Linked DNA regions of Homo sapiens: all the other regions are linked to region 2. The links come from fine-mapping of genetic effects on gene expression. A gene starts in region 2. Each other region holds a variant in brackets. All regions are shown on one strand. Distances are between the middles of the regions.

Evidence for each region.
Region 1: its variant is fine-mapped to the expression of ZNF12 in whole blood (INTERVAL, PIP above 0.99).
Region 3: its variant is fine-mapped to the expression of ZNF12 in naive CD4 T cells (Schmiedel 2018, PIP 0.95).
Region 4: its variant is fine-mapped to the expression of ZNF12 in lung (GTEx, PIP 0.98).

What each region holds. Positions count from the first base shown.
Region 1 is chr7:6,675,365-6,683,470 of GRCh38, forward strand. No RefSeq gene overlaps it. Among named protein-coding and RNA genes, the nearest start is that of ZNF12, 28 kb to the right of the region's middle. The variant T/C (reference allele first, on the strand shown) is at 3,679.
Region 2 is chr7:6,703,031-6,711,136 of GRCh38, forward strand. It overlaps ZNF12 (zinc finger protein 12), which reads right to left and starts at 3,917. Exons shown (of 5, transcript NM_016265.4): 1 at 3,402-3,917; 2 at 2,129-2,193. The coding sequence starts at 2,143. RefSeq lists a silencer at 3,533-3,892 and an enhancer at 3,586-4,085.
Region 3 is chr7:5,939,582-5,947,687 of GRCh38, forward strand. It overlaps RSPH10B (radial spoke head 10 homolog B), which reads right to left. Exons shown (of 21, transcript NM_173565.5): 13 at 5,483-5,597; 14 at 4,330-4,409; 15 at 3,743-3,891. Among named protein-coding and RNA genes, the nearest start is that of RSPH10B, 27 kb to the right of the region's middle. The variant T/A (reference allele first, on the strand shown) is at 3,347.
Region 4 is chr7:6,959,477-6,967,582 of GRCh38, forward strand. It overlaps LOC112267992, which reads right to left and starts at 572. Exons shown (of 2, transcript XR_002956537.2): 1 at 376-572. It overlaps LOC107986763 (a long non-coding RNA gene), which reads right to left. Exons shown (of 3, transcript XR_001745073.1): 3 at 2,369-2,446. RefSeq lists an enhancer at 3,260-3,759. The variant G/A (reference allele first, on the strand shown) is at 3,961.

The sequences.
Region 1 (8,106 bases), 28 kb before region 2:
TCTCGCTCTGTCACCCAGGCTGGAGTGCAGTGGCGTGATCTTGGCTCGCTGCAGCCTCCACCTCCTGGGTTTAAGCGATTGTCATGCCTCAGCCTCCCAACTAGCTGGGATTACAGGTGCCTGCCACCATGCCCAGCTAATTTTTGTATTTTTAGTAGAGACAGGCTGGTCTTAAACCCCTGACCTCAAGTGATCAGCCTGCCTTGGCCTCCCAAAGTCCTGGGATTACAGGCATGAGCTACTGCACTTGGCCTGAAGTCACATCTTAATATTCATCTGAGAAATCACACAGGAAAGAGACCCCATGTATGTAATGAATGTGGGAAGGCCTTTTCTATGAAGTCAAACTTCACTGATCATCAGAGAACACACTGAGAAGAGAAATCCTATGAATGTACTGAATGTCAGAAAACTTTTCACCATAAATCAACCCTAACAGTACATCAGAGAACTCATATGGGGAGAAGCCTTATAAATGTAATGAATGTAGAAAATCTTTCTATATGAAGTCAGCCCTCAGTCAGCATCAGAGGATACATATATGGGAGGAACATTGTGAATGTAAAGAATGTGGGAAAACCTACCAGAGGTCACACCTTGCTAAACATCATCGAAAATACACCACACAAGAAACCCTATGAATGTAAGCAATGTGGAAAAACCTTCCAGAAGTCACACCTCATTGAACATCAGAGGACACACCCAGGGGAGATACCCCATGAATGTAATAAATGTGGGAAATCCTTCTGTTATAAGTCACCCTTGACCATTCACCAGAGAACTCACATAGAAGAGAAGCCCTATAAATGTAGCAAATCTGTTACTTATTTCTGTATGAAATCACACCTCACTGTGCATCAGAGACCCCATACCAGGAAGAACCCTTTTGAGTGTAATGAATGCAGGAAAATGTTTTATGTGAAGTCAAACCTCATCAATCATCAGAGAACTCACACAGGGGAGAAACCATATGAAGGCAATACATGTGGGAAATCTGTATGAAGTCATCCTCCACACAAGAGTGATACTCTGAATTGTAACAAATATGGGAAATCCTCATGTGTAAAGTCAATTTGTTTTTCAAACCAAAATTCATGGTAGAAACCTTATGAATGTAAATAATGTAGGGGTCTCCTTCTGTGTAAATTAAATCCTTAGTTGGCATCAGAAAACACAAGATATAGGGACTGGAGGCCTCTCCACAAATGAAATGGATATGGGAAGATTTTGTGTTATCTTAGAAAATACTGGCCGGGCATGGTGGCTCACACCTGTAATCCCAGCACTTTGGGAGGCTGAGGCAGATGGATCACCTGAGGTCAGGAGTTCAAGACCAACCTGGCCAACATGAGGAAACCCCATCTCTACTAAAAATACAAAAATTAGCCAGGCGTGGTGGCAAATGCCTGTAATCCTAGCTACTTGGGAGGCTGAGGCAGGAGAATTGCTTGAACCTCGGAGGCGGAGGTTGCAGTGAGCCAAGATCATGCCATTGCACTCCAGCCTGGGTGACAAGAATGAAAACTCCATCTCAAAAAAAACAACAACAACAAAAAAAAAACCAGAAAACTCAAATGAGGAGAGACCCCTGAGAACATCTTGTATATTAGTATCCACCAAGAAATCAAATACAGTATGTTTCACATAAATCACAGGGAAAAACCGATAGAACAGTAATATAAAAGCATTTACAAAGTTCCAGCACATTTGCACAACATATGATTGATACTGGTGTAAAACTATGTTTTCTATGCATGAAAGCTTTCAGGAAAAATTCAACTATAAGCAGACAATTAATACTGAGGGGACGTCTATCAGTTTAGGAGATAGAGATACTTTATTTTTTTGAGATGGAGTCTTGCTCTGTCGCCCAGGCTGGAGTGCAGTGGCGTGATCTCGGCTCACTGCAAGCTCCGCCTCCCGGGTTCACGCCATTCTCATGCCTCAGCCTCCCAAGAAGCTGGGACTACAGGCACCTGCCACCACACCCGGCTAATTTTTGTATTTTTAGTAGAGATGGGGTTTCACCATGTTAGCCAGGATGGTCTCGATCTCCTGACCTTGTGATCCATCCGCCTTGGCCTCCCAAAGTGCTGGGATTACAGGCGTGAGCCACTGCGCCCGGCCGAGATACTTTTTTTTCCCTACAAATACTGTAATACTAGAAGTCACATTTCAGGTACCAAATTTAGCAAATGTGATGTGTGATACATCTAATGCTAATGACATTCATTGTTGGAAGATGAAGTCTTTTGAAAAACAAGTTGCAGCAGCAAGCTGACAGTATTAGATATTTGAGTACTTGAGGTAAGATGGCCTTACATTTGTTAGTGGGCAGCATACAACATACATACATGGCCTGTGTTTGATTTACATAGTGGAACTCCACCGAGTGGTCAGCAGGAAATATCTCTCCATAGCTTAAGAACTGTTGTAACACATCTACCACACAAAATGCCTCCAGTGTATCTTTGTATCTTTTTGTTTGTTTGTTTTTGGGTCAGAGTCTCGCTCTGTTGCCCAGGCTGGAGTGCATGGCACTATCTCGCTTCACTGCCACGTCTGCCTCCCAGTTTCAAGTGATTCTTCCTGCTTCAGCCTTATGAGTAGCTGGATTACAGGTGCCTGGCACCGTGCCCAGCTATTTTTTGTATTTTTAGTAGAGACAGGGTTTCTCCATGTTGGCCAGGCTGGTCTCAAAACTTCTGACCTCAGTTGATCTGCCCGCCTTGGCCTCCCAAAGTGCTGGGATTACAGGCATGAGCCACTGTGCCCGGCCTCTTTGTATCTTAATAGTACAGTATACTTGATATGTGACATGTATGACATTTGCAGTATACAATATGTTATTGAGAAATGCAGAGTACAGAAAACTATATGGCTTGCTGCCTTTTGTTTGAGAATTGAGGGGAAGAAATAATACGTATGTACATAGATATTTTGTATATATATTTATCTATTATATATGTTTATATATTTTTTTAATTTTTAAATTTTTTGTAGAGATGGGGCTCGCTATGTTGCCCAGGCTGGTCACGAACTCCTGGGCTCAAGCGGTCTTCCTGCCTCAGTCTTCCAAAGTGCTTAGATTACAGGCATGAGCTACTGTGCTTGGCCAATATATTTTATATAATATATATATTTTGCAAATAAGTATAAACTACAAACTACAAACCTGAAGAGTAAATTACAAACTCAAAAGTGAATGCCTATGGAGATAGGAGTGAACAGGGTGGCAGGGCTGAGGATAGAGACAAGGCTTCTTCACGTGTAGCTTTTTGTGAAGTTTTGACTTTTGGATAAATATGAGTAATTTACGTACTCAAAAGCACATTTTGAAATTGAAACCAAAGAAGAAATCAACTGAAGTTTATATCAAATTGGTAACTTCACTAAGTAGAAGAGCTCATTCTTTCAAGAGACTTTTAAATGCAGTATGATGAGCATATCCTTAGTGGGATTTGTTTCTGTTTTAGGACAAAAAGAACTTAAAAAATGACATTTAGAAGACACCTGGCTAGGTCTCTTCAAAAAGCTGACTTTTTTTTGAGACGGAGTCTCACTCTGTTGCCCAGGCTGGAGTGCAGTGGCGCGATCTCGGCTCACTGCCAGCTCTGCCTCCTGGGTTCACACCATTCTCCTGCCTCAGCCTCCCGAGTAGCTGGGGCTACAGGTGCC[T/C]ACCACCACACCCGGCTAATTTTTTGTATTTTAGTAGAGATGGGGTTTCACTGTGTTAGCCAGGATGGTCTCCATCTCCTGACCTCGTGATCTGCCCGCCTCGGCCTCCCAAAGTGCTGGGATTACAGGTGTGAGCCACCACACCCACCTGCTGCCATCATTTTTAAAAGGAGAGAAAAGGTGGAGGGACTATTTTTCAAGGGCAAACATGCTGAATATAGAAAGATGAACTGGCTTGATGTCTGCAGCCTTGAAGTGGCTCAGGAAAAAGATGCATGCATCGATAAAGCAAAAATGGCAAAATTTAAGCAAGTGTTGATCTGGCAGGCACATGGGTATTGACTGTTTTTCTTACAAGAGTTGTGTTTGAAAAATTTGATAATAAAAAGTTTTGGAGAAGTACTGTACCACTTAGCAATTCTGTTACTGTTCTTTGGCGTATATAAATAGCTCTGCCCGTGCTTATTGATCTGCTTGTCAATAAAGAAGCCAAACAGTAACCTTTAAAGTGTTCAGTTGTTTTGGGTTTTAGTCACTTCAATAAAAACAGAACATAACCAAAGGCTGGTCATGGTGGCTCATGCCTGTAATCCCAGCACTTTGGGAAATTGAGGCAGGAGGATTATTTGAGCCCAAGAATTCAAGACCAGCCTCGGCAACACAGCGAGACCACCTTGTCTCTGTAAAAAGTTGAAAAATTAGCCAGACATGGTGGTGTACACCTGTGGTCCCAGCTACTTGGGAGGCTGAGGCAGGAGGATCTTTGAGCCAGGGAGTTTGGCTTTGCAGTGAGCTGTGGTTGTGCCACTGCACCCCAGTCTGGGCAACAGAGCAAGACCCCATCACAAAAAAAAGAAATAATGCAAAGGCAGCGTATTATACCATTAACAACTCAAGCTTGTGTTAAGAACTAGGTGCAAACAGTAGTGCTCATTGCACTGACAATGAAAATAGTATTGTATAAAGAAAATGTGCTTCTCTTTCTACTCCTGACACGTTTCTAAGCGGTGCCTCCAGAAGTACATGGCATAGGCCCCAAGCGGTAGGAGCCCAGGAACCATTTGCCAACAGGGTGGCAGCTGTTGTGTCCTCATTCTTTCTCCCTCCTCTACCTGGATTTCCTTGCAGCAGGGGGCAGACTGTTCTAGGCTGCTTTGTTGCATGAAAGCCTTGGTGTGGCCTGTTTTCCCCCCCTCAACAGGGACTGTTTGGGTTGGGCATATGACCAAGCCTTGACCTCTAGGATGTGTAGGGAAGTGTTCTGTATGATTTTTGGGAAAGGGTTTATCACTGATGAAGAGACATGAGCAGAATCACATTACCCTTCTGAATACATCCATTGTTTGCGTCTTGTGGCCCAGGGCTGTAGTTGGAGGTTGGTGAGCAGAGATAGAAGAGCCTGGCCACTGATGGTATGAAGCACTGATTTAACCCACACTGAGGAGGCTCTGGATTGGGCACTTGAGGTCATTAGTTTTTCTTATTGTGTAAGCCTGTTGGAGTTGAGATTTTTCTGTGACTTGGAGCTGTAAGGCATCCTAACTTTGAAGAGGGATAGTTTTTGTTTGTAGAGAAAGGGTCTCTATGTTGCCCAGGCTGGTCTTGAATTCCTGGGCTTAAGTGATCCTCCTGCCTTGGCCTCCTAAAGTGCTGTGATGACAGGATACATTTTTTTAAAAGAAGTTGTGTAATTCAGAAGTGTTAGTCACAGTGATTTGGGGGCAAGAATGATTTTGAGAAAATGATTCAGCAGCTGCTTTCTGCTCTGTACATTTATATGTAATAAGGAAATGCAGGTACCCTTGAACAGCACAGGTCTGGACTGAGCAGGTCCACTTGTAAGTAGTTTTTGTTTTTTTTCCCAATAGTTGGCCCTCCTTATCTGCAGGTTCCACATCTGCAACCATATACAGCTCAAAACTATAGTATTCACAGAATGCAAACCTGAGGATACAGAGGGCCAACTTTGTATACAGGTTCTGAAGAGTCAACTTCAAAACTTTTGTATGCGGAGTTTGGTATCCACAGGGGGTCTGGAAACAATTCCCCCATGGATACTAAGGGGCGACTGTAATGTCATTTCTTATTTGCAAGAATCCAGAGCGGAAAATGTTCTTTTCGAAATTAGTTGCATATTAAGTATTCTTTCTCTTCATATAAAATGTCATTTTTAATTGATCAAATTATTCATTGCCTTTTTTTTTTGACAAGGTCTGGATTCATGTACGGATGTAATCTTTACTTTTGCAATGAACTGCTAGTTGTCCTTACACTATTTAAGAAATCCATCTCTTTGTCCCTGGTTTGAAATACTATTTTTATTTTATTTTATTTATTTATTTATTTGTTGAGATGAAGTCTTGCTCTTGTCCCGCAGGCTGGAATGCAATGGCATGATCTCAGCTCACTGAAACCTCCACCTCCTGGGTTCAAGCAATTCTCCTGCCTCAGCCTCCCGAGTAGCTGGGATTGCAGGCACCTGCCACCACATCCGGCTAATTTATATATATATATTTTTAGTAGAGATGGGGTTTCACCATGTTGGCCAGGCTGGTCTCAAACTCACGGCCTCAGATGATCCACTCGCCTCGGCCTCCCAAAGTGCTGGGATTACAGGCGTGAGCCACCATGCCTGGCCGAAATACTACTTTTATCATAGGGTAGGTCACTGTTAGTAGTGTCTTTGCTTTTTGTGTGCTCAGCACTCTTTCTCACATCTTTGTAGAAAGAGAAGCTGAAAACCTGGAGAGCTGGAAGTTCTCTGGGTGACCATTCATTCATTCCACCATCCTTTTGGCCCATCTTGATTTTACCAGGGAAGGACATTCAATCTGAGAGGTTAATGACAGTTGTTGGGAGGTTGTAATGGGAGGTCATTGTAGAGCCGTTTTTTGGTTTGGTTTCGCCTGGGAGTTGTCAGCAGCTTGGTTTTATTGGTTTTTGTCTAATTTACAGTTTTAGTCCTGCTTGGCATAGCTTGTGAGTCCCGTTATGCTTTGCTTAACAACAGAGATATATTCTGAGAAATGCTTCATTGTGTGAATGTCACACAGCGTGCTTACACAAACCTACGTGGTAAAGACTACCATCTGGGCTGTATGGTATGGCCTATCGCTCCCAGGCTACAAACCTCAACAGCATGTGACTGTACTGAATACGCTAGGCAACTGTAACACAGTTGCATTTGTGTATCTAAACAGAAAAGGCACAGTAACATGCGGTATTAGAATCTTATGAGACCACTGTTGTATATCTGGTCCATCACTGATCAAAATGTTATGTGGTGTGTGACTATACTCCAATTCTGAGTTTTATTCTATTTTATTGAACTATGAATACTTTATGCTAAAGAAGATCATGTTCCAATTCCTCTTGCTTTGTAATCTTTTCCATACATCAAAGAACAATCCTGTTTTTCAAGCTTTTTGGCTTTTCCTACAATTCATTCTCAGAGATGACCTTTAGAATAGACTCACCAGGCTCTTATTTCCAAAGCCTGTAGGGATTATGACTAAATCTGCATTTAAATTTAACCTCAGTGAACTGCCCACTGAGGGGGGCCACTCAATCCAGCTGGCTTGAACAATCTCTTGATGACCAGAGACTGGGGGGTCACTCCAGCTGCTCTCCCCGACCCCAGGGACATCACCATGGCCCACTGAGCATTCCTGGGGCCCCAGGCCTGCCTCATCTTCCTTCCAATTGTCTCCTTTCTAACTTTCTTTGGGGAAGGTGGCACCTAATTTGAATGCCCTAGAGGTTGACTGTTTACCTGCCGGCTTTACCCAGGGACTTGCAGCTTCCAGGTAGGGTAGGAGGAATTTTTTGTTGGAGGCATTTGCTGGATGCCTTCTCCATTGTTTCAGTGGTATTTCCTCTTAACAAATGCAAACGTAACAGCTCACACAATAGAACTTCAGTTTTCAATCACACCAAGTCCAAAATCAGCACTCTTGTTCAGAGAGTGGCTTCCAGGGACTTCAGTTTTTCTATAAATGGCTTCTCAGTTCTCCTTCAGGTTTCCAAGGTCAATCTGCTCATTAGCAGAAAGGGAGAGAGGATGGAGAAGGCACACTGGCTTTTTGGCCACCTCACCTGTGGCAAGTGATGCAACAATTCTGCCCCACTGGTGACAATGTGTCATGAAGGCCCCATTTGTGCAAATGGCTGGCAGGTCTCATCTGCCTGGACAGTTGTCTCTGTCATCTTTCCTCTGCTCTGGTCCTGACAGGCATCTAGGCAACTCTGTTGCATCCTAAGGCTTTGCTTTCCCATCTTACCTGTCCATTTGTCCAGCTGTCTACTCACGTCCTGAGGGCCAAAACCTAGTCACCTGGCCACAGCTAGCTAACAGGAAAGTGGAGAAATGAACTCTCCAGTTACAGCCTGAACAACACAGTGAGACTCTTTCTCTACAAAAAAAAAAAA
Region 2 (8,106 bases):
TCCCAAACTACACACACACACACACACACACACACCCCTACCTGCCTTCCTGATGCTGCCACTCACTGCATACCAACACAGCCCAAATTTTAAACATCTGAAACCTAATTCTGGCCTTTTCTCAAGCCTGCTTTACCCACAGTCTTCCCCATCCCAGCTTCAGGCAACCTCATTTTCGTAGTAGCCACTCTGGGAGCCACGCAAGTGCTTTTCCCATGGGGGAAGCACGATATGATGAACACTTCAGGAGAAATACTCGACATGGGAAATGCAATATGCCTGGGCTTGTGGAGGAAAGTAGCAGTATAGAAAGAAAATCTCTACAACAGTAGAGAGGCCAAAAAATAAGCTATTTTTACAACAGCAGGGAGGGGATAGGGGACAGGATAAAAACCATCTAGAATATGACATGTACAAACTCAAAACAATCGCGAGGTCAGAAAATGGACAACTTTAGAAAGAATCCCATCTTTCTCGATAGGGCTACAGGCTGGACGATGGAACAATGAATCAATAGGAACAAGAGAAGGCATAGGTGGGGGGGCTCCAAATAATTATTCTGAACCTGCTGCATCTATGACCTTGAGGGGTCCTTTGGACACACTCCAAAGAAATGCTAAGCAGGTGGCTGGACAGTTCTATGTGGGAAAACCAACACAGAGCTGGTAGTTAGAAGCACAGGAGGGTGACATCAGATAGGTACAGAGTCGTGAGCCAAGAGTGGACACCAACACATGAAGACCAAAGAAATCATCAATTTCAGGAAGCAGGCAAGAAGAGAAAGGGCACTCAAACTGACAGAGCAAACTGCAGAGTGGGCCAAGGCAAAGATGCAAATGTCCACTAAGAGCATGTGCTGGATTATTGGCAACCTTTTCCAACAAGGTCAGGGGAGTGGTAGGGACAGGACCAAGACCACAGGCTATGGGATAAAATGGGCATCTATGCCAGAGATTTATTATGGTCCTTTCTGCTGTGCAACCCAGATAAACTAAGAGAAATATTTAGGGAGGCGGCTTGGCATGGTGGCTCACACCTATAATCCCAGCACTTTGGGAGGTCAAGGTGGGCAAATCACTTGGCACTTGAGGTCAGGAGTTCGAGACCAGCTTGGCCCAAGTGCTTCTGAAACCCCGTCTCTACTAAAAAAATACAAAAATGAGCTGGGTGTGGTGGCAGGTGCCTGTAATCGCAGCTACTCGGGAGGCTAAGGCAGGAGAATCGCTTGAATCAGGGATAGCGCCACTGCACTCCAGCCTGGGCAACAGAGTGAGACTCCATCTTTAAAAAAAAAAAAGAAAAGAAAATATTTAGGGAGACTAATTTAAGGGTGAGAAGGCCATTTCTGCAACGGATAGAGCAGTAAAAAGAATCTACCTTTGAGACAACAATGTTTTAGTTACTAGAAATATTATGGGCTGGGCGCAGTGGCTCATGCCTGTAAGCTCAGCACTTTGGGAGGCCGAGGCGGGTGGATCACCTGAGCTCAGGAGTTCGAGAGCAGCCTGGCCAACATGGTGAAACCCTGTCTCTACTTTAAAAAAAAAAAAAAAAAAAAAAAAGGCCGGGTGTGGTGGCAGATGCCTGTAATCCCAGCTACTCCAGAGGCTGAGGCAGGAGAATCACTTGAACCTGGGAGGTGGAGGTTGCACTGAGCTGAGATAGCGCCACTGCACTCCAGCCTGGTGACAGAGCGCAATACTTGGTCTCAAAAAAAAAAAAAAAAAAAAAAAAAAAAAAAGAAAGGCAAGAATTGCAATGGTTCAAGGGTTATTATTTAGGAAAGCTGTTGATAATGATCTCAGAGGAATCTTTAAAATTCATGCAAAAACAAAAGTGATTCTGCTTACGGTCAATGTAAGTCAAGGAATGGATGGTATTTATCATTTTTTGTGATAAATGCCAAGAACATAAGACGCTTGTACTCTGACTTCAAGAACTCTTTAAGGATCACGCTATCTGCGCATATGAATATGATAAAAAGGCTTGGTGCTGATGGCTACTGTTCTGTCTGACCAAATCTTGTATCTATTTCTACTTTCCCATTTTAAACTTTGAACCCTTAATCTCCTCCTAAGGTGTATTGTAAATCAGAGTAGAGAATAAATACATGAACAGAAACACTCACCAGGGATTTATTCATTTTCTGCTGCTCTTGGAAAAATCTGGAGGACTGTGAAAGCGGAGGCAGATCTGGGGAAGGAAAACCCAAGCCATGGCGTTATGAGCGGTCTGGCCTGCCAAGGCGGTCATCTCCCGCCCAAAACCTACACAGAAAGTTCCAAGAAGTACATCTTGTGGGAGACTGTCCCTTTAAGCCTTCAGAAGGGATTGGAAAATGATCAGGAGGGGGACCGATCTGCACATTTGAAACTCACACATGGCTACCTTGTGACTGAGTGGATGAGATTCTCATGGTGAATGAATACTGGATCCTACTGAAATAATCTGCCATCATTAAATGCAAGATTTAAAAAGGAATTCTGGTGACCAGCCTGGCCAACATGGTGAAACCCCATGTCTAGTAAAAATACAAAAATTAGCTGGGCGTGGTGGCGGGCGCCTGTAACCCCAGCTACTCGGGAGGCTGAGGCAGGAGAATCGCTTGAACCCGGGAGGCGGAGGTTGCAGTGAGCTGGGATGGCACCATTGCACTCCAGCCTGGGCAACAAAGCGAAACTTGTCTCAAAAACAAACAAACAAACAAACAAAAAACAAACAACAAAAAATGAATTCTGTAATACTCATCTATTTTCTTACTCTTTTAAATAAAGATCAGAAAATCCACAGGATGCCCTAAATAAAGGAATACAGTCGGCATAATTGAGTCTTTATTTGCAGAAACTTCAGTGTGCTACTCAAAAGGATCTTTTATTGAAGAACTTACGCTCACTTAACTAGGATACGGGGGACAGAACACTGGCCTGGGAGATAAAACTCCAGAGTTCTACTATGAGCAACTCCACCCACAAAACCTCGGACAAGTCACCCACCTGCTAAGGCCCTTCCCCTAGCAAATGAGGCAGCAAGAGATAGTTCCTGCAGGCTGTTCCTGCACTACAACGTATGATTCCACAAGAGCAGACCTAAGGGGGAATCAGCACTTAAATGAGAGAACAGAGGTGCTGACGGACGTTTAGATACGGTAGCAATCTGGAGCAGAGAGAGGAGGAAGGGCTGCTGGGGTGAGGGGGGAGTGGAGACAACGTCCGCAGCTGAGGCTGGTGACACCCCCCACGCCCCCGTAAGCCTCGTCCTCGCCGGACCCTGCCTTCAAACCCAAACACACGTCACTCCTGCAAGCGATCGAGACCTTCCACTGTCCCTCACTCTAAGGTGCCCTACACGCGGTGACTTCACCCAGGCCCTTCTCGCCCCGGGCCCGCAAACCCACGACTTACCCTCCTGGGGCTCCGCAGCCTCTGCCCCACCGCTCCCGACAGGCCGGGGCGGGATTGCTGTCGCGGGCGCGCGTCTGCTCGCGAGGTCCCTTCCTGTCCACCTCACCAAGGCCGTTCTGCTCCAGAGGGGCCCGGGCCGGGCCTACGGGACAAATCCAGGCGGGGCGTCCCTCCCGGAGCCCAGATCCGTCTCCCTGGGGCTCACCGTCCTGCGGAGCCGGGGCCGGGCCGTCGAGGACGCACACGGGCCGGGCCCGGGTCCCGCCGCCCCTTCGCCTCCGCCGTCGTCACCGCCCGGCCGGCCCCTTGGGCCCCAGCGCCGTCGGCTCCGGGGGTCGTGCTCGGGGATCCCCGCTTGAGCCTCCGCCTGGCCCGCACAGCCCCGCGCCCGCTTGGGTGCCGGCCCGGCTCTTCGGCGCCCAGCCCCGCAGGCTCCGCGATTCTCGCCCACCGGAGGCCAAAGCCTGGGAACTAGGGCGAGCGGTGACCTGGGGACGCACAGGAAGCGAGGGCACTGCGGCCGCGGCGCGCATGCGCGAACACGCACACAGAGAGGGGTGCACATGCGCAGGAATGCACCGGAAGTCCGCCTCCCGGGACCCGCCGCCGGTCCCAGGACAAATACCGTGACTCTATTTCCCATGAGCCTACGCGCTCCCCAAATTTAGGAGCCATTTGAAATGTCTCTATCTGGTCTAGCGGTTAAGAGGCTCTATGCTAAGAGAATTGGCAACGCCGAACCCCAGACTCAAATTTCTCCTTAGTTTAAGGGAACGTCTTCATGGGGATGTCTTGACTATCTTTAAGGGAACGTCTAGAAAGTCTCTGCTTCCTGTAGCATCTCGTAGACCATGCCTGGGCCAGTCCTGCCTTACCGGAGAGCTCAAGGCTTAAAATCAATGTCCATGTGCAACCGTGACAAATGGAACAAGAGGGTGCATCATGCTAGCTTATGATCACAATGACACATTTAACGAAAACTTCAGTAAATAGAGCCCATGGATGAAATAATAGAGGATTAGCCTGGGACAGGATACCATCCTCGCCCCAACAAGGAGAAAAAGAATTCCAGCTTTTCCAAATCACTTTGAATTAGTGATAGCTAGAAAACTCAGAGAATATGTACAGAATTGAAAGAAGAAAAAAATTAGCCAGAACTCTACTTCCTGAAGAGGATGAGGCAAGCAGAAGAAGAAATTTGCGTCTTAATGGAAAACGAAGCACATTTAGAAAGCCATGTTACTTGATTCCAACCCTGTTCCTTATCTTTGAGGTATTTTACACCTCTTTGAAAACTGTAGGTAATCGATGCAAGTTATGTTCTGTCTGGTGGAAGTTGGTTGACTTCCCACAATCCCCACTAGAGAAAATGCAGTTTTGACTGCATTTCTCCATTTACATAATCATTTCAATATTCCTGATCTGAAAATATGTCTGTTTCTCAGATTCTCTCTCTCTCTCTCTTTTTTTTTTTAATTTTGAGACAGGGTCTCACTCTGCTGTGCATGCTGGAGTTCAGTGGCGAGATCTTGGCTCACTGGTTCAAGGAATTCTCCTGCCTCAGCCTCCCAAGTAACTGGGATTACAGGTGCACACCACCAAGCCCGACTAATTTTTGAATTTTTAGTAGAGATGGGGGTTTCACCATGTTGGCCAGGCTGGTCTTAAACTCCTGACCTCAAGTGATCCACCCGCCTCAGCCTCCCAAAGTGCTGGGATTACAGGCATGAGCCACCATGTCCAGCCCTCAGATTCTCTTTTGAACCAGTTATAATATCTGCCTGTTTCCTCTTGAATTAAATAAAATCTTTAGCATGTGCTCATTTTTATATCTGTATCAGAGTCATGATTTTACTTTTATGTTTTAAGGTTTTCCAGGTCTTTGCAGAAGTCCCTGATGGAATCACATGACTGAGCCAGGAAAACCTCAGGACTGGAGTGCCTCATGAACTGTTGAAGCCCAGGTGAATCTTTTCTTGGCTCCCAGGAATGAGTCCAAAGTGCCAGTAGAAATTTGCTGGCTTCTCATTTTTCAGTAATTTCCCCATTTACCAATCCTGTGTTTTACTTTGGTTTGCATTTGTTTACATTGCTAGCATCACTGATTGGGACTTTGTTTGTTTTTGTTGTTTCAAGGCAAAGTCTCACTCTGCCGCCCAGGCTGGAGTGCAGGGGTACGATCTCGGCTCACTGCAACTTCTGCCTCCCAAGTTCAAGTGATTCTCCTGCCTCAACCTCCTGAGTAGCTGGGACTATAGGTGCATGCCACCATGCCCGACTAATTTTTGTATTTTTAGTAGAGACGGGGTTTTTCCATGTTGGCCAGACTGGTCTCGAACTCCTGACCTCAGGTGGTAGACTCGCCTCAGCTTCCCAAAGTGGTGGGATTACAGGCGTGAAGCACCGCGCTGGGCTAGGAATTTGGTTTTATGGTCTGATCACATGGTGATCTCTGTAATGAGATTAATGTTTGCAAAGACCTAATCTCTGTTGGGTGAGAGACATCAGAGTCTGATTTGTTATTCTATTTCTCTGTCTATTTTGAGCTGAAATCAATTAAGAATTTCATGCCCACTGGGAGGAGAAGAGCTCTTTCATATCTGGAAGGGTGAGTTTTTGCATTTTTGTGTTTACTCTTGACCCATGTCTGAAATTTTAGAATTGAAGCTGTAAGCTCTATTTCTTTGTATGTCTGTGTGTCTGTAATTTAGAAAGGTCTTTACCTCTGATTGTGTGAGTGTCTAATGTTTTTCCACCTCTGAATGGTATTATAGTAGATATAGAGTTTGTTTGTTTGTTTTTGAGACAGGGTCTCACTCTGTCGTCCAGGCTGAAGTGCAGTGTGTGCGATCACGGATCACTGCAGCTTCAACCTACCTGGGCTCAGGTGTTCCTCCCACCTCAGCCTCCCAATTAGCTGGGACTGCAGGTGTGTACCACCATACCCAACTAATTTTCGTATTCTCTATAGAGATGGGGTTTTGCCATGTTGCCCAGGATGGTCTCGAACTTCTGGGCTCAAGCGATCTGATCACCTCAGCCTCCCAAAGTGCTGGGATTACAGGCATGAGCCACAATATAGAGTCTTTAAAGGTTTGCTGTTCTGATTGGCTTGTAGAGGTGTGTATGTACTTATATAAATTGAATTTGCCCAAATTCTTAGAAAAAAAGAGAAATTGAACTTCTGTTGCTTTAATGTGCTAGAAAGGTATTTTTTACTGAAACCAAATCAAATGTTTTGGAAATGCGAGTCCGCATGTAGTCCACATATATGTTACCGAGCAGTCAATGCACTCGCTGCCCAGTGTGTACAGAGGCCAATACCATGGCTCCAGCTTTTGAGAAATAAAGCCTTTTTGTAAGTCAACTAGCAAGGACACAGGAGGAAATGCTCAAATCTCCCTTTCCCAGCTGGGGGCTATGTCAGGTTTTGTACGCATAGGGTAAGGAGATGTGATTTGATTGGATCTTGAGATGAAGTAATTAATGCTGGGAGGTGTGATCTGACTGGATCCTGCCATGGAGTGACACCAAAACTCAATCTCATTGGTTCCTGGCTCCTGCCACAGGGTGTCCGGTTCTTAAATGGGTCCCAGCTCCTCAGTCCGAGCACTTAGGTTCCACTTCGTGGTTGCATGCTTGGTTAATCTGGGCATGCTCAGAGTATATGACCTTCAACCCACGGATCCATGGCAGTTGAAAAACAACTGCCAACTACATTACATAAAAGTTGAAATGGACGTGGAGTGTGGTGGCTCACACCTGTAATCCCAGCACTTTGGGAAGCTGAGGCAGGCAGATCACGAGGTCAGGAGTTCCAGCCCAGCCTGGCCAATATGGTGAAACCCCGCCTCTACTAAAAATACAAAAATTATCCAGGGGTGGTGATGCGCTGAGGCAGGAGAATCTCTTGAACCCAGGAGGCGGAGGTTCCAGTGAACCGAGATCGCGCCATTAAACTGCAACCTGGGTGACAAGAGCAAAACTCCGTCAAAAAAAAAAAAAAACTTGAACTAGATTTAGTCTGATGCAGTTCCAGATTTACAAACCGTGTCCCCACCCTCCTGCCGACACCTTCCACTCCTCATTCTTGAGGGATTAGGGATGGAGGTCATGCTTCTGTATCTACTTCATGCTGACCAGAGGCACTGAGTCCCCTAAAGTTAGAGGAATGAAACTCTTGGGCTGCTGAGTTCAAATGAGTTTTGGGGTCACCCAGAATTGCTTGAAGGGCTGGTATTGTTGTGGTAATACAAGCTGAAGGTGGAAGTGTTGGAGCCGGGAGGACAAACAGCTCACCATCAATTTAAATAAACAGGACTGAAAAGTACCAGGAGAACAGTGGCCACGAGGGGCCCCAACAGAGGAAGAAACCAGGTGAGGTGCGGTATAGTGGACTCGACTGCTTTCTAAATCTCAGTGGTTGGCCAGGCACTGTGGCTCATGCCTGTAATCTTAGCAAAAGGGAGGCCGAGGCAGGCGGGTCACCTGAGCTCAGGAGTTGGAGACCAGCCTGGCCAACATGGTGAAGTCCCATCTCTACTAAAAATACAAAAATTAGCCAGGCATGGTGGCATGTGCTGTAGTCCCAGCTAATCGGGAGGCTGAGGCAGGAGAATTGCTTGAACCCGGGAGGCGGAGGTTGCAGTGAGCCTCCAGCCTGGGTGACAGAGCGAGACTCTGTCTCTAAATAAATAAACAAATA
Region 3 (8,106 bases), 760 kb before region 2:
TCAAACACACACACACACACACACACACACACACACACACACACACACACACACACGTATTTACCTCTCTATCCCTTCTCTAGTGCCTCCAAAATAACAGCAGAGTATTTGTTGGCATCAGAACAGGACATAGAACATGGGAGACCAGAACACGGTCCAGGTGTGAAATATTAACACGATGCTGTAGGCCGAAAAGCACGTCGGGAAACAACGTGCTGCACAACAAAACCGATGTGACCGCAGAATAATTGACATGAAGAAGAGTTAAGCTCCTGACCACACGGCACTGGTTGAAGTCACAGTTTCCAAGAACCTATCAATAACGTTATGTGGGGCCGGGCGCGGTGGCTCACACCTGTAATCCCAGCACTTTGGGAGGCCGAGGCAGGCGGCTCACGAGGTCAAGAGATCCAGACCATCCTGGCCAACATGGACAAACCGCATCTCTACTAAAAATACAAAAAAATTAGCTGCGCATGGTGGCGTGTGCCTGTAGTCCCAGCTACTCGGGAGGCTGAGGCAAGGGAATCACTTGAGCCCAGGAGGCAGAGGTTGCAGTGAGGTGAGATCGTGCCACCGCACTCCAGCCTGGGTGACAGAGCAAGACTGTCTCAAAATAATAATAATAATAATGTTAAGTGAGGACTTACTGTACTCAAATGTTCAGGTTTCAATGTTTTTTTTTTTAAATCACTCATACCGACCAGCCTGGGCAACATGGTGAAACCCTGGCCAACATGGAGAAACCCCGTCTCTACTAAAAATACAAAAATTAGCCTGGCATGGTGGCACGCACCTATAATCCCAGCTACTTGGGAGGCTGAGGCAGGAGAATCACTTGAACCAGGAGGCAGAGGTTGCAGTGAGCTGAGATCACGCCACTGCAGTCCAGTCTGGGAGACAGAGCAAGACTCCATCTCAAAAACACAACAACAAAAAAAAAACTCATACCAAGAACCAGGAAGATCTCAAACTGAATGAAAAAAAGAGAATCCACAGATGCCATCTCCAAGATGACAAAGATGTTACAATTGACTGACAGAGACTGTGAGACAGTCATCACAAAAATGCTTCCATGAGGCTGGGTGTGGTGGCTCATGCCTCTGATCCTAGCACTGTGGGAGGCCGAGATGGTTGGATCACCTGAGCTCAGGAGTTTGAGACCAGCCTGGGCAACAGGGTGAAACCGTCTCTACTAGCCGAGCGTGGTGACATGCACCTGTAATCCCAGCTACTCGGGAGGCTGAGGCAGAAGAATCACTTGAACCCGGGAGGCGGAGGTTGCAGTGAGCCAAGATCAGGTCGCTGCACTCCAGCCTGGGCGACAGAGCAAGACTGTCAAAATAATAATAATAATAATAATTATTATTATTATTATTATTATTATTATTCAATGGGCAATTGCAAACATGCTTGAAACAAATGAAACCATGAAAAGGGCCAGGTGCAGTGGCTCACGCCTGTAATCCCAGCACTTCAGGAGGCCGAGGCACAAGGACTGCTTGAGCCCAGGAGTTCAAGATCAGCCTGGGCAACATGGCAATAACCCGTCTCTACAAAAAATAGAAAAATTAGCTGGGTATGTTGGCACACACATGTAGTCCCAGCTATTCAGGAGGCTGAGGTGGGAGGATTGCTTGAACCCGGGAGGTTGAGGTTGCAGGAAGCCAAGATTGCACCACTGTACTCCAGCCTGGGTGACAGAGTGAGAACCTTGCTCAAAAAAACAAAACTATTTTCCTATAGTTAGACACTAGGTTATTATCCATTTTTCATATGTATACAACATTATGAAATTTGTAAAAACACTGTATCATTAGTATTTGATTCTGTTTAATCATTTGTATTCCCACAAGTACAAATTAAAAGTACCATGGAACAGGCCAGGCACAGTGGCTCACGCCTGTAATCCCAGCACTTTGGGAGTCCGACACGGGCGGATCACGAGGTCAAGAGATTGAGATCATCCTTGCTAACATAGTGAAACCCTGTCTCTACTAAAAAATACAAAAATTAACTTGGCATGGTCATGCACGCCTTTAGTCCCAGCTACTCGGGAGGCTGAGGCAGGAGAATTGCTTGAACCCGGGAGGCGGAGGTTGCAGTGAGCCGAGACCTCACCACTGCACTCCACCCTGGCAAAAGAGCGAGACTTTGTCTAAAAAAAAAAAAGTATCATGGAACAAAAACAACCAATAGTTAGTATGAGAACATTGTATAAATGTTGTCACTATTTTCCCAAGTAATAACTTTTAAAAATTCCTTTTTCGATAAACTGTAATTGTTTTAAATGATATCCATCCTCCCCACTTCCTTAGTTTTTTTTTTGAGACAGAGTTCTGCTCTTGTTGCCTAGACTGGAGTGCAGTGGCACAATTCCAGCTCATTGCAACCTCGGCCTCCCAGGTTCAAGCAATTCTCCTGCCTCAGCCTCCGAAGTGGCTGGGATTACAGGCTCCGGCCACCATGCCTGGCTAATTTTTTTGTATTTTTAGTCGAAAGGGGGTTTCACAGCATTGGCCAGGCTGGTCTCAAACTCCTGACCTCGGGTGATCCACCCCCTCCGCCTTCCAAAGTCCTTCCTTTTTAAAAAGATTTCAGTTGACTTTATTGCTATTCTAGGATCAGGCAACACTTCAGTCCATCAAAAAGACTAAGGTGTTCCTCCATTTTCCTTTTTTGTTTTTTGGGGGATTTTTTTGGGACAGGGCCTCACTCTGTCAACCAGCCTGGAATGCAGTGGCACGATCACAGCTTACTACAGCTTCCCGAGTAGCTGGGACTACAGGCGTGCACTACCACGCCCGGCTATGATTTTTTTATTTTTTGTAGAGAGGGGGATCTCACTATGTTGCCCAGGCTGGTCTTGAATTCCTAAGCTCAAGTGATCCTCCTGCCTCGGCCTCCCAAAGTGCTGGAATTACAGGGGTGCCCCGCTGTACTCGGCCCTATCTTCCTTTAAATGGCTGGATCTGCATAAATAAAGATATTGTAGGCCAGTCAGGCACAGTGTCTCACACCTGTAATTCCGGCACTTAGGGAGGCTGAGGCGGGTGGATCACCTGGGGTTGGGAGGTCAAGACCAGCCTGGGCAACATGGTGAACACCCGTCTCTACTAAAAATACAAAAATTAGCCAGGTGTGGTGGCGGGCACCTGTAATCCCAGCTACTCTGGAGGCTGAGGCAGGAGAATTGCTTGAACCCAGGAGGTGGAGGTTGCAGTGAGCCAAGATCACTTCATTGCACTCCAGCCTGAGTGACAAGAGCAAAACTCCGTCTCAAAAAAATAAAATTAAAAATATATATATATTTATTATATATATATTTATTTATATATATATATAT[T/A]TTTTTTTAAGACAATGGCCCATGGCATATATAAATATATATGTCCATGCTGGTCTTGAACTCCTTGACCTCAGGTGATCCGCCCACCTCGGCCTCTCAAAGTGCTGGGATTGCAATATATATATATATGCATGCCATGGGCCATTGTTATAGGCCATGGACCATTGTCTTGCCCTAATCTGTTAGCATATTGGGCAGGTGACGGCTGTTTCTGTTCCTTCCACGACCACAGACCACTGTTCTGCCAAGAGACTCAGTAAACATTTAATGGTCCTGAAAATCCAGCCCAGATCTTCACCTGATTATTTGCATATCACAGCTGGAATATCCTGCCTTTCTTTAATTAAAATCAAAGTGCCTGTAAATAGAAAGCCAATATCGAACTTAGGTGGTTACTTTCAGCATCCAGAGGAAGTGTCTCATCTTCATCGTAGGCTCGTGGGGAGGCGCTGCACTGGGTCTGCAGTAAGCGAGATAAATCTCCCAGCACTTATTCATGTAACTCATAGAGTAGAGCGTCCGCTGTTGCTCACGGAATAAATTGCCTAAAAATACAACGTTCGAAAAATGATTACAGATTTATGTTTTGAGAAAAAAATAGCAGTAAATATAATCCTATTGCTTTTGTTTTTTTCCCAGACAGAGTCTTGATGTCACCCAGGCTAGAGTGCAGTGGCACCATCTTGGCTCGCTGCAACCTCCGCCCCCCAGGCTCAAGCGATTCTCCTGCCTCAGCCTCCCGAGTAGCTAGGATTACAGGCATGCACCACCATACCTGGCTAATTTTTTTGTATTTCTAGTAGAGATGGGGTTTTGCCATGTTGGCCAGGCTGGTCTTGAACTCCTTGACCTCAGGTGATCCTCCTGCCTCGGCCTCCCAAAGTGCTGGGATTGCAGGAGTGAGCCACTGCGCCCAGCCCAGATTTATATTTTGAGAAAAAAAAATGGGGCGGTAAATAGAATCCTACTGGTTTTGTATTTACCTTTTATCTGGAAGGCATTTGGACGAATGTTCTCGGTCATCAGTTTTGTAAAACACAAGAAGAGGGATGGGCTTCTCTTTCTGTGATAATCATCAAAAGATACCATAGTTACTTCTCCTCCAAAAGAGGGAACTTAATTCCCTTCTCCTTGAGCACGGGCTAGACTTAATAATTTGCTTCTAATGTATAGAGTATAGAAAGGGAAGGCAAAGTCAGTGGCTCAAACCTATAATCCCAGCATTTTGGGAGGCCAAGGTGGGCGGATCACTCGAGGTCAGGAGTTTAAGACCAGCCTGGCCAACATGGTGGAACCCCATCTCCACTAAAAATACAAAAAATTAGCTGGGCTTGGTGGCAGACACCGGTAATCCCAGCTACTTGGGAGGCTGAGGCAGGAGAATCACTGGAACCTGGGAGGTGGAGGTTGCAGTGAGCCGAGATCGCGCCACTGCACTCCAGCCTGGGTGACAGAGCGAGATTCCATCTCAAAAAAATAAATATATAAATAAAAGTTTTTTTAAAAAAAGATATAAAACCACTTTTGCTGTAAGAAAGACAAGAAATTCTGACATAAGAAAGAAGACTTGGTTGTGACTATTTGTTTCTGCATTAGAAACCCCGAGAGATATTTGCAGTATTGAACTGACCAGATATGAAGGGCTTTCAAAGTTTTGATCCAGTATGTCATGGCTTTGTGGTTAATATTTGTGGAAAGGTTGTGTTCTGAGTCCTTCATTTCAAGAGTATGTTAAAAAAAGACTGCTGAGGCTGGGCATGGTGGCTCACGCCTGTAATCCCAGAACTTTGAGAGGCTGAGGCAGGTGGATCACCTGAGGTCAGGAGTTTGAAACCAGCCTGGCCAACATGGTGAAACCCCGTCTCTACTAAAAATACAAAAAAAAATTAGCCAGGCATGGTGGCACATGCCTGTCATCTCAGCTACCCAGGAGCCTGAGGCAGAAGAATTGCTTGAACCGGGGAGGCAGAGGTTGCAGTGAGCCAAGATTGTGCCACTGCACTCCAGCCTGGGCGACAGAGCAAGACTCCATCTCCAAAAAAATAAAAATGACTGCTGAAGAAAAGAGGGCATTATGACAATAATACAGCTTAGCTGTGCCCCATCCCCCAACAAGGGTCCAGAAATAGTACTTACTGGAATTCTTCATGATAAATGTGGTACGCCAAATGCAGGAGGTAATTCAAAAATGTTCTCAAAAGTATTGTTGTAAATGGAGAATGGATTTCTTCAACTGGTATGTCATTATTGGCTAAAATAAGAAAATTGGAGAGGATGCCTGACATTTGCTAGAACCTTCCATTTTATTTGCGCCTGGTATACAATTCGAAGAACTGAATATATGCGCTTATTTCAAAATGCTCTGAACATGTGTATAAGCGTCCAACCAAAAATTTAAAACTCCGTGAAAGCCAGGCACGGTGGCTCACGCCTGTAATCCCAGCACTTTGGGAGGCTGCAGCAGCAAATTGCCTGAGGTCAGGAGTTTGAGACCAGCCTGGGCAACATGGCGAAACCCTGTCTCTACCAAAAATACAAAAAATTAGCCAGGTGTGGTGGCGGGCACCTGTAATCTCAGCTGCTTGGGAGACTGAGGCAGGAGAATCGCTGGAACCCGGGAGGTGGAGGCTGCAGTGAGCCGAGATTGAGCCACTGCACTCCAGCCTGGGCAACAGAGCGAGACTTCATCTCAAAAAAAAAAAAAAAGATGTCAATCTTGTCCCACTGTTTTCCAGAATAGTCTGAGACACAATCTGATGAATGCTGCTAATTCTAAATGGATTTTAAGTATGTTTCAAACACTAAACTTTGACGTAAATAGGCATTTGCTCTAATACTTCATTTTTCAAGCGGATAATTAGAAGCTTGCAGCTCTGCCTGCCAGGATTTGGCTGAAAGAAGTTAAACTTCCAAAGTTGTTAAATTGATGACATCAACTTCCTAATTTGAAATCAAGACCAATCCTAAGACTACTTAGGGCCTTTTCTAGACTCTTCCAAGCCATTGCTGATTCTCCCTGTTTTGTTTTTTTTTTTTTCTTTTGAGACAGAGTCTCACTCTGTTGCCCAGGCTGGAGTGCAGTGGCACAATCTCGGCTCACTGCAACCTCCGCCTCGCGAGTTCAAGCGATTCTTCTGCCTCAGCCTCCCGAGTAGCTGGGACTACAGGCACGTACCACCACACCCAGCTAATTTTTTGTATTTTTAGTAGAGACGGGGTTTCACCATGTTAGCCAGGATGGTCTTGAACTCCTGACCTCATGATCTGCCCACTTCGGCCTCCCAAAGTGCTGATTACAGGTGTGAGCCACCGCATTTTTTTTAGAGACAGAGTCTCACTCTGTCACCCAGGCTGGAAATCTCGGCTCACTGCAACCTCCACCTCCTAGGCTCAAACGATTCTACTCCTGTCTCAGCCTCCCAATAAGTAGCTGGGAATACAGGCATGTACCACCATACCTGGCTAATTTTTGTATTTTTAGTAGAGACGGAGTTTCACCATATTGGCCAGGCGGGTCTCAAACTCCTGGACTCAAGTGATCCACCCGCCTCGGCCTTCCAAAGTGCTGGGATTACAGGCGTAAACCACGAGGCCTGGCCATCTCCCCATTTCTGACCTGACAATTTAGTGCTCTTTTACTATAGATCGCTGGTCAGGGGGAGAGAGGGAGGCAAACTTTCTGTAAAGGGCCAGAGAGTAAATATTTTAGGCTTGGTGGACCAGACCGTCTACATCACAATCCCTCAGCTGTGGTGCTTCGGGGTAAAGCAGTCACGAACACGTAAGCAAACGGGCATGTCTGTGTTCCAGTAAAGCATGATTTAGGGGAACGGGGGTGGACTGGATTTCACCCTGAGACCGTGCATTGCTGGCCCTGCTTTTGTAGGTGACCTCGTGCTGTTGCTGTTATGTCACGAGACTGTCTCTTTATCAAGTACCTCGTAATCACGGGGGAAATGACCACGCGCTGATTTCTGGAACACTCGTCTCCCAACCTGGGCCTTCCCAGCTCCCTCCACATTTCCTAACTGCTTTCCAGGTGACACTGTGATACTGTCCTTGAAACCAGAGGTCCCCAACCTTTTTGGCACCAGGGACCGATTTTGTAGAAGACAGTTTTTCCATGAATGGTGGAAAGCGGTGGGGGGCTGTTGGTTTCAGGATGATTCAAGCACATTCGAATTACTGCACGCCTTATTTCTATTATTATGACACTGTAATACATAATGAAACAATTCTACAACTCGCCATCAGGTAGAATCAGTGGGAGCCCTAAGCTTGTTTTCCTACAACTAGACAGTCCCATCTGGGGGTGATGGGAGACAGTGACAGATCATCAGGCATTCCATTCTCCTAAGGAGCGTGCAACCTACATCCCTCCCATGCTCAGCTCACAGTAGGATTTGCGCTCCTATGAGAATCTAATGCCCTGCTGATCTGCAGGAGGCGGAGCTCAGGCGGGAATGCCAGCGATGGGGAATGGCTGTAAAAACAGATGAAGGTAGGCTGGGTGCGGTGGCTCATGCCTGTAATCCCAGCACTTTGGGAGGCCAAGGCGGGCAGATCATCTGAGGTCGGGAGTTCGAGACACGCCTAACCAACATGGAAAAACCCCATCTCTACTAAAAAATACAAAAATTAGCTGGGCATGGTGGCACATGCCTGTAATCCTGGCTACTCAGGAGGCTGAGGCAGGAGAGTCACTTGAACCCAGGAGACAGAGGTTGCGGTGAGCCGAGATCGTGCCACTGCACTCCAGC
Region 4 (8,106 bases), 260 kb after region 2:
AAGGGTGATTAGGTTTTAATGAGATGGTAAGGGGTGCATGATAGGTTGCCAAGGAGGGAGTAGAGGTATCTTCTACTTGTGGGTTAAGGTGGGTGGCAATGAGACGTGGCTGTAGTCCAGGAATAGTCAGGGAAGCAGATAATTTAGTTAAAGTGTCTCAGCCTAATAAGGGAACTGGGCAGGTGGGGATAACTAAAAAGGAGTGCTTAAAAGAGTATTGTCTAAGTTGGCACCAGAGTTGGGGAGTTTTAAGAGGTTTAGAAGCCTGGCTGTCAATACCCACAACAGTTATGGAGGGAAGGGAAACAGGCCCTTGAAAAGAAGGTAATGTGGAGTGGGTAGCCTCCGTATTGATTAAGAAGGGGATGGACTTACCCTCCACTGTGAGAGTTACGTAGAGCATCTGTGATGGTCCTGTAGGCTTCTGAGGCAATCGATCGGGCATTGTCAGTCTTCAGCTGCTAAGCCAAGAAGATCTGGGAAGGAGTCAGTCAGAGAGCCTTGGGCTGGAGTTCCAGGGGCTCTGGGAGTGGCTGCCAGGTGAGTTGAACAGTCCAATTTCTAGTGGGGTCCTGCACAGATGGGACATGGCTCAGGAGGAATCCTGGGCTGCAGGCATTCCTTGGCCTGGTGGCCAGATTTCTGGCACTTGTAGCAAGCTCCTGGGAGAGGCGGTTCTGGAGGAATGCCTGGCCACTGCGCTTTAGCCGTTTGGAAGTTCTTGTGTGCTGGAGATTTGGCTGGGGTTTGTCTCACAGTGGAGGCAAGGAATTGCAACTGAGAAATATGTTGCTACTTGGCTGCCTCTGCTCTATTATTGTACACCTTGAAGGCGAGGTTAATTAAGTCCTGTTGTGGGATTTGAGGGCCGGAATTTAATTTTTGGAGTTTTATTTAATGTCGGGAGCAGACTGGGTAATAAAATGTATATTGAGAATAAGACGGCCTTTTGACCTTTTAGGGTCTAGGGCTGTAAGGCAACTCAGGGTTGCTGCCAAACGAGTCATGAACGGGGCTGGATTTTTAAATTTGATGAAAAAGAGCCTAAACGCTATCTGATTTGAGAAAAAGAAAAAGGAGCATTAACCTTGACTATGCCTTTAGCTCCAGCCACCTTTTTAAGACGAAATTGCTGGGCAGGTTGGGGAGGGCTGGTCACAGAATTAAACTGCAAGCCAGATCCAGTGTGAGGAGGGGAGGTGATAAAAGGATTATAGGGTGGAGGAGCAGAGGCTGAGGAAGAATTGGGAGCTAGCTCAGCCTGGCGAGGAGGGGAGAGGTCAGATGGGTCTGTAGAAAAGGAAGATTAGAAAGACTCAGCGACACTAGGGGTTGGGACTGAGGGGACAGGTGGGAGGGAAAGAAGGAAGATTTGGGATGAGTTGCATTGGGAACAGAGACTAGGGAGGGACCAATGTGTAAGAGAATACCTGGACATCAGGCATCTCAGACCATTTGCTCATTTTATGACTAGAATTATCTAGATATTGTAGGATGGAAAATTTGAAAGTGCCGTTTTCTGGCTATTTGAAACCACTGTTGGGTTTGTATTGGGGTCAAGCGGCATTGTAGAAGAAAATAAGGCATTTAGGTTTTAGGTCAGGTGTGAGTTGAAGAGGTTTTAGGTTTTGAAGAACACAGGCTAAGGAGAAGAAAGGGGAATGGAGGATGGAAGCTTGCCCATAGTGAAGGAGGCAAGCCTAGAGAAAAGAGACAGTAGAGACATGGAGAGAAGGGATGGGGGGTTCTTGCCTTCCAGAAAAGAGGGAAAGGGGTTGGGGCACAGAAATAAAAGGTTGGGGTGCAGAGATAAGAGGTCAGGTTGTGGAAATAAGGGATCGGGGCTCAGAAATAAGAGGGCGGGCATGGAAATAAGGGATCAGGGCACAGAGATAAGAGGTCAGGGCATGAAAATAAGGTATCGGGGTGCAGAGATAAGAGGTCGGGGTTCTTGCCCCTCCCCCAGAAAAGCAGGACTTGCTGCTAAGGGTGAAGGACCAAGGCAGGCATCCCTGCGTGGTCTGACACCTCTGAAACCTGGGTGAATAATCAGAGAGGCGTCCCTGCAATGATTAAACACCAAGGGAAGGCTGCCTTCCCTAGTCCATGACCAGCGCCGGAGTTTCGGGTCCACGGATAAAACGTGTCTCCTTTGTCTCTACCAGAAAATGAAAGGAATTGAAATTAAGAGAAGGGAGATATTGAAGTGTGATGCCAAGATTGGAAGGAGAAAGAGGTTGAGGGATAGTGAGGGAGGTTGGAGAAGAGAGTAAAAAGAAGCCGCTTACCAGATTTGAAATTGGTGAGATGTTGCTTGGGCTGGTCAGTCTGAGGACCTGAGGTCGTAGGTGGATCTTTCTCACAGAGCAAAGAGCAGGAGGACAGGGGATTGATCTCCCAAGGGAGGTCCCCCGATCTGAGTCACAGCACCTAATTTCACATGCATCTGTGTGAAGAGACCACCAAAGAGGCTTTGTGTGAGCAATAAAACTGTTTATGTCACCTGCGTACAGGTGGGCTGAGTCCAAAAAGAGAGTCAGTGAAGGGAGATAGGGGTGGGGCCATTTTACAGGATTTGGGTAGGTAAAGGAAAAAGGGGGGTTGTTCTCTGGCAGGCAGGAGTGGGGGTCACAAGGTGCTCAGTAGGGGGGCTTTTGAGCCAGGATGAGCAAGGAGAAGGAATTTCACAAGATAATGTCATCAGTTAAGGCAGGAACTGGCCACCTGGGTATGTACATGCAGGTCACAGTGGATATGATGGCTTAGCTTGGGCTCAGAGGCCTGACACTCTTCCTCCAGAGGAGGAGACCCAGACAGAAGAGGAGGAGGCAAGGTGATCACAGAGGCAAAGAATGGATCATGCAGCCACAAGTTGAGGAATTCTAGTAGCCTCTACAAGCTGGAAGAGGCAAGGAATGGATTCACCTCTAGAACCTCTGAAGAAGCATGCTCCTGCTGACATTTGATTGATTTTGGACTTCTGGCTTCCAGACAATTTTTTTTTTTTTTTTTTTTTTTTAGACAGAGGCTTGCTCTGTTGCCCAGTCTGGAGTGCAGTGGCACGATCTCAGTTCACTGCAACCTCCGCCTCCCAGGCTCAAGCCATTCTCTTGCCTCAGCCTCCCAAGAAGCAGGGACTACAGGTGCCTGCCACCATGCATGGCTAATTTTTGTATTTTTAGTAGAGACGAGGTTTTGGCATAGTGGCCAGGCTGGTCTCGAATTCCTGGCCTCAAGTGATCCACCCACCTCAGCCTCCCAAAGTGCTGAGATTATTTAGGTGTGAGCCACGGCACCCGGCCCAGACATTGTTTGAAGCCACCCATTTCATGGTTCTTTGCTGCAGTGGTTGTGGAATATGAATGAACTCGTGCTGTTGGTTAGACTTTGCTGCCCTTGTGTCTGTTATTCCCTGGCAGTTCTACAAGGCCTGGAGCTGATACGAAAAACCTCCCTTCTTTCCCTAATGGTCCCCAGCTTCCCCGTTCACTGAAGGCCCTGCAGTCAGGAACAGTCAGGACTTTGCACCCAGTTGTTGTGGGTGTTTGGCCGACCCTTCCTCTAGTGTGATTCATGGACCCACAGCATTGCGTCACCAGGGAGCTTTTGGAATTGAAGACTCTCAGGGCTCACCCGGAAGGACCTGCTGGGCCAGAATCTGCATTTTAACAAGATGCCCACGTGATTTGCATACACGTTCAGATCTGAGAAGCGCTAGTAGGAGAGGCTTTAAGGTGGTAATTAGATCTTTTCTCCACCTGCAAGAATCTTAGTTTCTTCATGTTAAATCAATTAAGTGTGGCAATGTCATGGGTGTTATAAAACAAAACAAAATCCTTACATCAAGAATGCACCCTGGCGTGTTATGGATGTGGGTGAAATGAAATGTCTGGAATTTGCTTTAAAATATCCTAAAATAGCAAGAAGGAAAAGAAAAGTGGGAACTGGAATGAGATTGGC[G/A]AAATGTTGACAAGTTCTTGCAGTGGGATGATGGGTGCATGGGGGTTCATCGTGCAATTCTCTCCCTGCTTTTTGTGCGTATGGGAAATTTCCATAATGAAAAGTTAGAGGTCGGGCACGGTGGCTCATGCCTGTAATCTCAGCATTTTGGGAGGCTGAGGTGGGTAGATTGCTTGAACCTAGGAGTTCAAGACCATCCTGGACAACATGGTGAAACCCCATCTCTACTAAAAATGCAAAAATTAGGCATGGTGACAACATGCCTGTAGTCATGTTGAGGTAAGAGTTTGAGATATGAGAATCACTTGAACCCAGGAGGCGGAGGTTGCAGTGAGTGGAGATCGCAGCATTTCACTCCAGCCTGGGTGACAGAGTGAGACTTGGTCTCAAAAAAATTTTCAATTTTCTTTTTTTTTTGAGATAGGGTCTTGCTTTTTTGCCCAGGCTGGAGTGTAGTGGGGTGATCTTGGCTCACTGCAAGCTCCACCTCCCGAGTTCACTCCATTCTTCTGCCTCAGCCTCCAGAGTAGCTGGGACTATAGGCACCCAGCACCATATCCGGCTAATTGTTTGTATTTTTAGTAGAGATGGGGTTTCACCGTGTTAGCCAGGATGGTCTCAATCTCCTGACCTCGTGATCTGCCCACCTTGGCCTCCCAAAGTGCTAGGATTACGGGCATGAGCAATCGTGCCCGGCCTTAATTTTGTTTAATTTTTTTCTTTTTTGAGACAAGATCTGTAGCCCAGGCTGGAGTGCAGTGGTGCAATCCCGGCTCACTGCAGCCTCTACCTCCTGGGTTCAAGCGATCCTCCCACCTCAGCCTCCCGAGTAGCTGAGACCACAGGCGTGTATCATCACACCTGGCTAATTTTTTTCCCTTTTTCTAGAGGCAAGGTCTTGCTATTTTGCCCAGGCTGGTCTTGAACTCCTGAGTTCAAGCAATTTTCCCGTCTCAGCCTGGGAGTAATCCCAAAGTGCTGGGATTACAGGTGTGATTCACTCTATCCAGCCTCAACTGTTTTTCATGACTCCACTTTTTCTCCCCTCTTGGAAATGAGTAGTCTTTGAGGGAATGTCATTTTGTCTCAATCTCTGGTTTCTTTGCTCAGTGCAGCTGTGTTTGGGGCTTTGTTGATCTCCAGGCCTTTTTCAGCAGCGTTGTCCCTGGAGAGCAGGATGGGAGCTGATGGCTTCTCAGCATCTTTTAACCTCAGTTTAAAGATGACTATCAACAACATCTAGTCAGCATCTGTTGCTCTCGGCAGCTGGGACTTCATTTCCTTTCTCTTTCTCCACCTCTCTAACCTCTTTAAGACTCTGGCTTTGTCAGGGGTACAGCATCACCTGTGTGGCCCTTAGGCTCTCTTACTTACATGTGATCTGCGTATTATGTCTTTACTTCAGGGCTTCTCAGCCAGGGGGTGATTTTGCCCCCCAGAGAACATGTGGCCATGTCTGGAGACAATTTTGGTGGTTGCGGCTGGAGGAGGTGGTGCTACTGGCAGCTAATGGGTAGAGGCCAGGGATGCTACTAAACATCCTACAATGCCCCGGACAACTCCCACTAAGACAAAAGAATGATCCAGCCCCAAATGTCAATAGTGCTGAAAGTGAGAGACCCTGATTCCATCTTAGAGATCATCCAAGCACACTTGGCCAAATTGTTTTTGCTACTGTCCCATGAAGAAAAGGCAGACTCATGACTGATGGCAACATCGATGGGAGTTTTGCTTACCTCTTCTTTGTGGACTTTGGGATACGATGACTTACCGTTTGTGCAAGTTGTGCATTACATACCTCCAGGGGGCGCCACCCACATATTTATGAAAATGCCACCCCAGGAATTGCACAGTACATAGTCTACGTGGCAATAAGCAGTTGCTCTGGTTTTGGGGTTGCCCTGGGGTGCTCTGGAACTGGGAGGAATTTTATCTCTGGCCATTAGAGGCCCTGAGCGTGACATTGAGTATCCTTTCAAGAAAGGAGAAATGTTGAACAGAGAGGACCTCATTTTTATAACTCTTGACCATCATCTAGTTACGGAGCGTCCACTTTTCTCCCCTGGGCCATATCCATTTGACGGATGAAAAATCATCAAATTATAATATCATGGCTTATACTTTTGATAGATTCTGCCCGGAACATGGCGGTAAGAGCTTCTCATTTTCAATTGATTCATTGGGGGAGAGAATATACACAGCTGTCCTAAGACTTTCAATGACACACCATTTGCTTGATGGGATTTCTTTAGTTTCTGTAGCATAACTTATTCTAACTGGTCCTCAATCACTTTGCAATAAAACCTGAGATTGTGAAGATGTTCATTGTCATTACCAGTGATGGAGCAGTAAGTACAGAGTTCTGGAGAGAGAAGGAATTGAGAGAGTTAAACTAGCAGAATGAGCCGCTCACCCTCAGAATTGCTTTTAATCTTGGTGAGAACTGAGGGGAATTTTGACAGGGTTCAGGGAGACTGCGGGGAGTGGGGCTGGGAGGTGGCTGTTTGCACGTGTGGTCAGCAAATCCAGTGAGGGGTTCATGTACTGTGGGCAGCCCCGCAGATGGAGTTGGGATTGCCCTGGACTGAGTACTGTGTCATCAGTACTCAAGACATCGAGGCCCAGGCTGGTGCAGGAGATACATTGCACTGTGTCAGCCTTTCTTCTATCGCTGCTCTCCAATGACAGTCCCCGATTTTCCACTGAGGAGTCACTAGTCCCCCATGGCATGTGTGCCACTGGCTATTCCCCACCCTGATCTGGAGCTGGGGCATGTGGTCCCAGCCTGGATGCCAGTGTCCTTCCACCACCCTGGCCACAGTGATTGGGTCTGAGAAGCAGATTAGCCAAAGGAGAGACAATCTTGGAAATTTCATGTTCATGCTTAAGAAAGTAAAATGGAAAGCGGGGGGAGGGTGAGGGGTCATTCTGATGATATAGTTTTAGGACCTGGATGTAGCCACACCTGTAGCTGTCAACTCTGTGCTATAGTACTGCTTTTTTTTTTTTCCTTCCAATTTAAATACTTTCTAAAGGCAAGATCTTGCTATGTTGCTTAGGCTGGTTTTGAAAATTCCCTTTCGTGGGGATGCTTTCTCTGCTTCACTTCCTTTCTATGACAGCTCAGGGAATCAGAAGACAAGGGAGATGCCTTTTTTTTTTTTTTTTTTTTTTTGAGACAGGGCTTGCTCTATTGCCCAGGCTGGAGTGCAGGGTTGCAATCACAGCTCGCCACAGCCTTGATCTTCTGGACTCAAGCGACCCTCCTGCTTCAGCCTCCTGAGTAGCTGGGACTGTAGGTGGCTACCACCAAGCCCAGCTAATTAATTTTTTTTTTTTAGAAATGAGGTCTCACTATGTCACCCAGACTGGCCTCAAACTCCTGGGCTCAAGTGATCGTCCTACCTTAGCTTCCCAAACTTACAGGTGTGAGCCCCCACACCAGTCAACGCTGTGGTCTTATGCACCTGGTGTCCCCTACGCCCTGAGCAATGATCCTCCTGCTTCAACCTCCCAAAGTGCTGGGATAACAGATGTGAAGCAGCATGTGTGGTCCACATAGTATTCTTACGGGTTAAATTGAGTCCTCCTCAAAACATGTTGAAATCCTAAATTCCAGCAGCTCAGAATGTGACCTTATTTAGAAATAGAGTTATTGCGGACCGGGCGTGGTGGCTCATGCCTGTAATCCCAACACTTTGGGAGGTCGAGGCGGGTGGATCACCTGAGTTCAGGAGTTTGAGACCAGCCTGACCAACATGGAGAAACCCCATCTCTACGAAAAATTCAAAATTAGCTGGGTGTGGTGGCCCATACCTGTAATCCCAACTACTCGGGAGGCTGAGGCAGGAGAATCGCTTGAACCCAGGAGGCGGAGGTTGCATTGAGCTGAGACCGCGCTATTGCACTCCAGCCTGGGCAACAAGAGTGAAAGTCCCTCTCAAAAAAAAGAAAGAAAGAAAGAAATAAGGTTATTGCAGATGCTGTTGATTAGGATGAAGTCATCCTGGAGTAGGGAGGGCCTAAGTCAATGACTGGTGTCCTTATAAAAGAGGAGAGGACACACCGAGTCACAGAGACACAGGGAAGAAGGCCATGGATTGGACAGAAGATTGGACTGATGCGTATGCAAACCAAGGAACACTG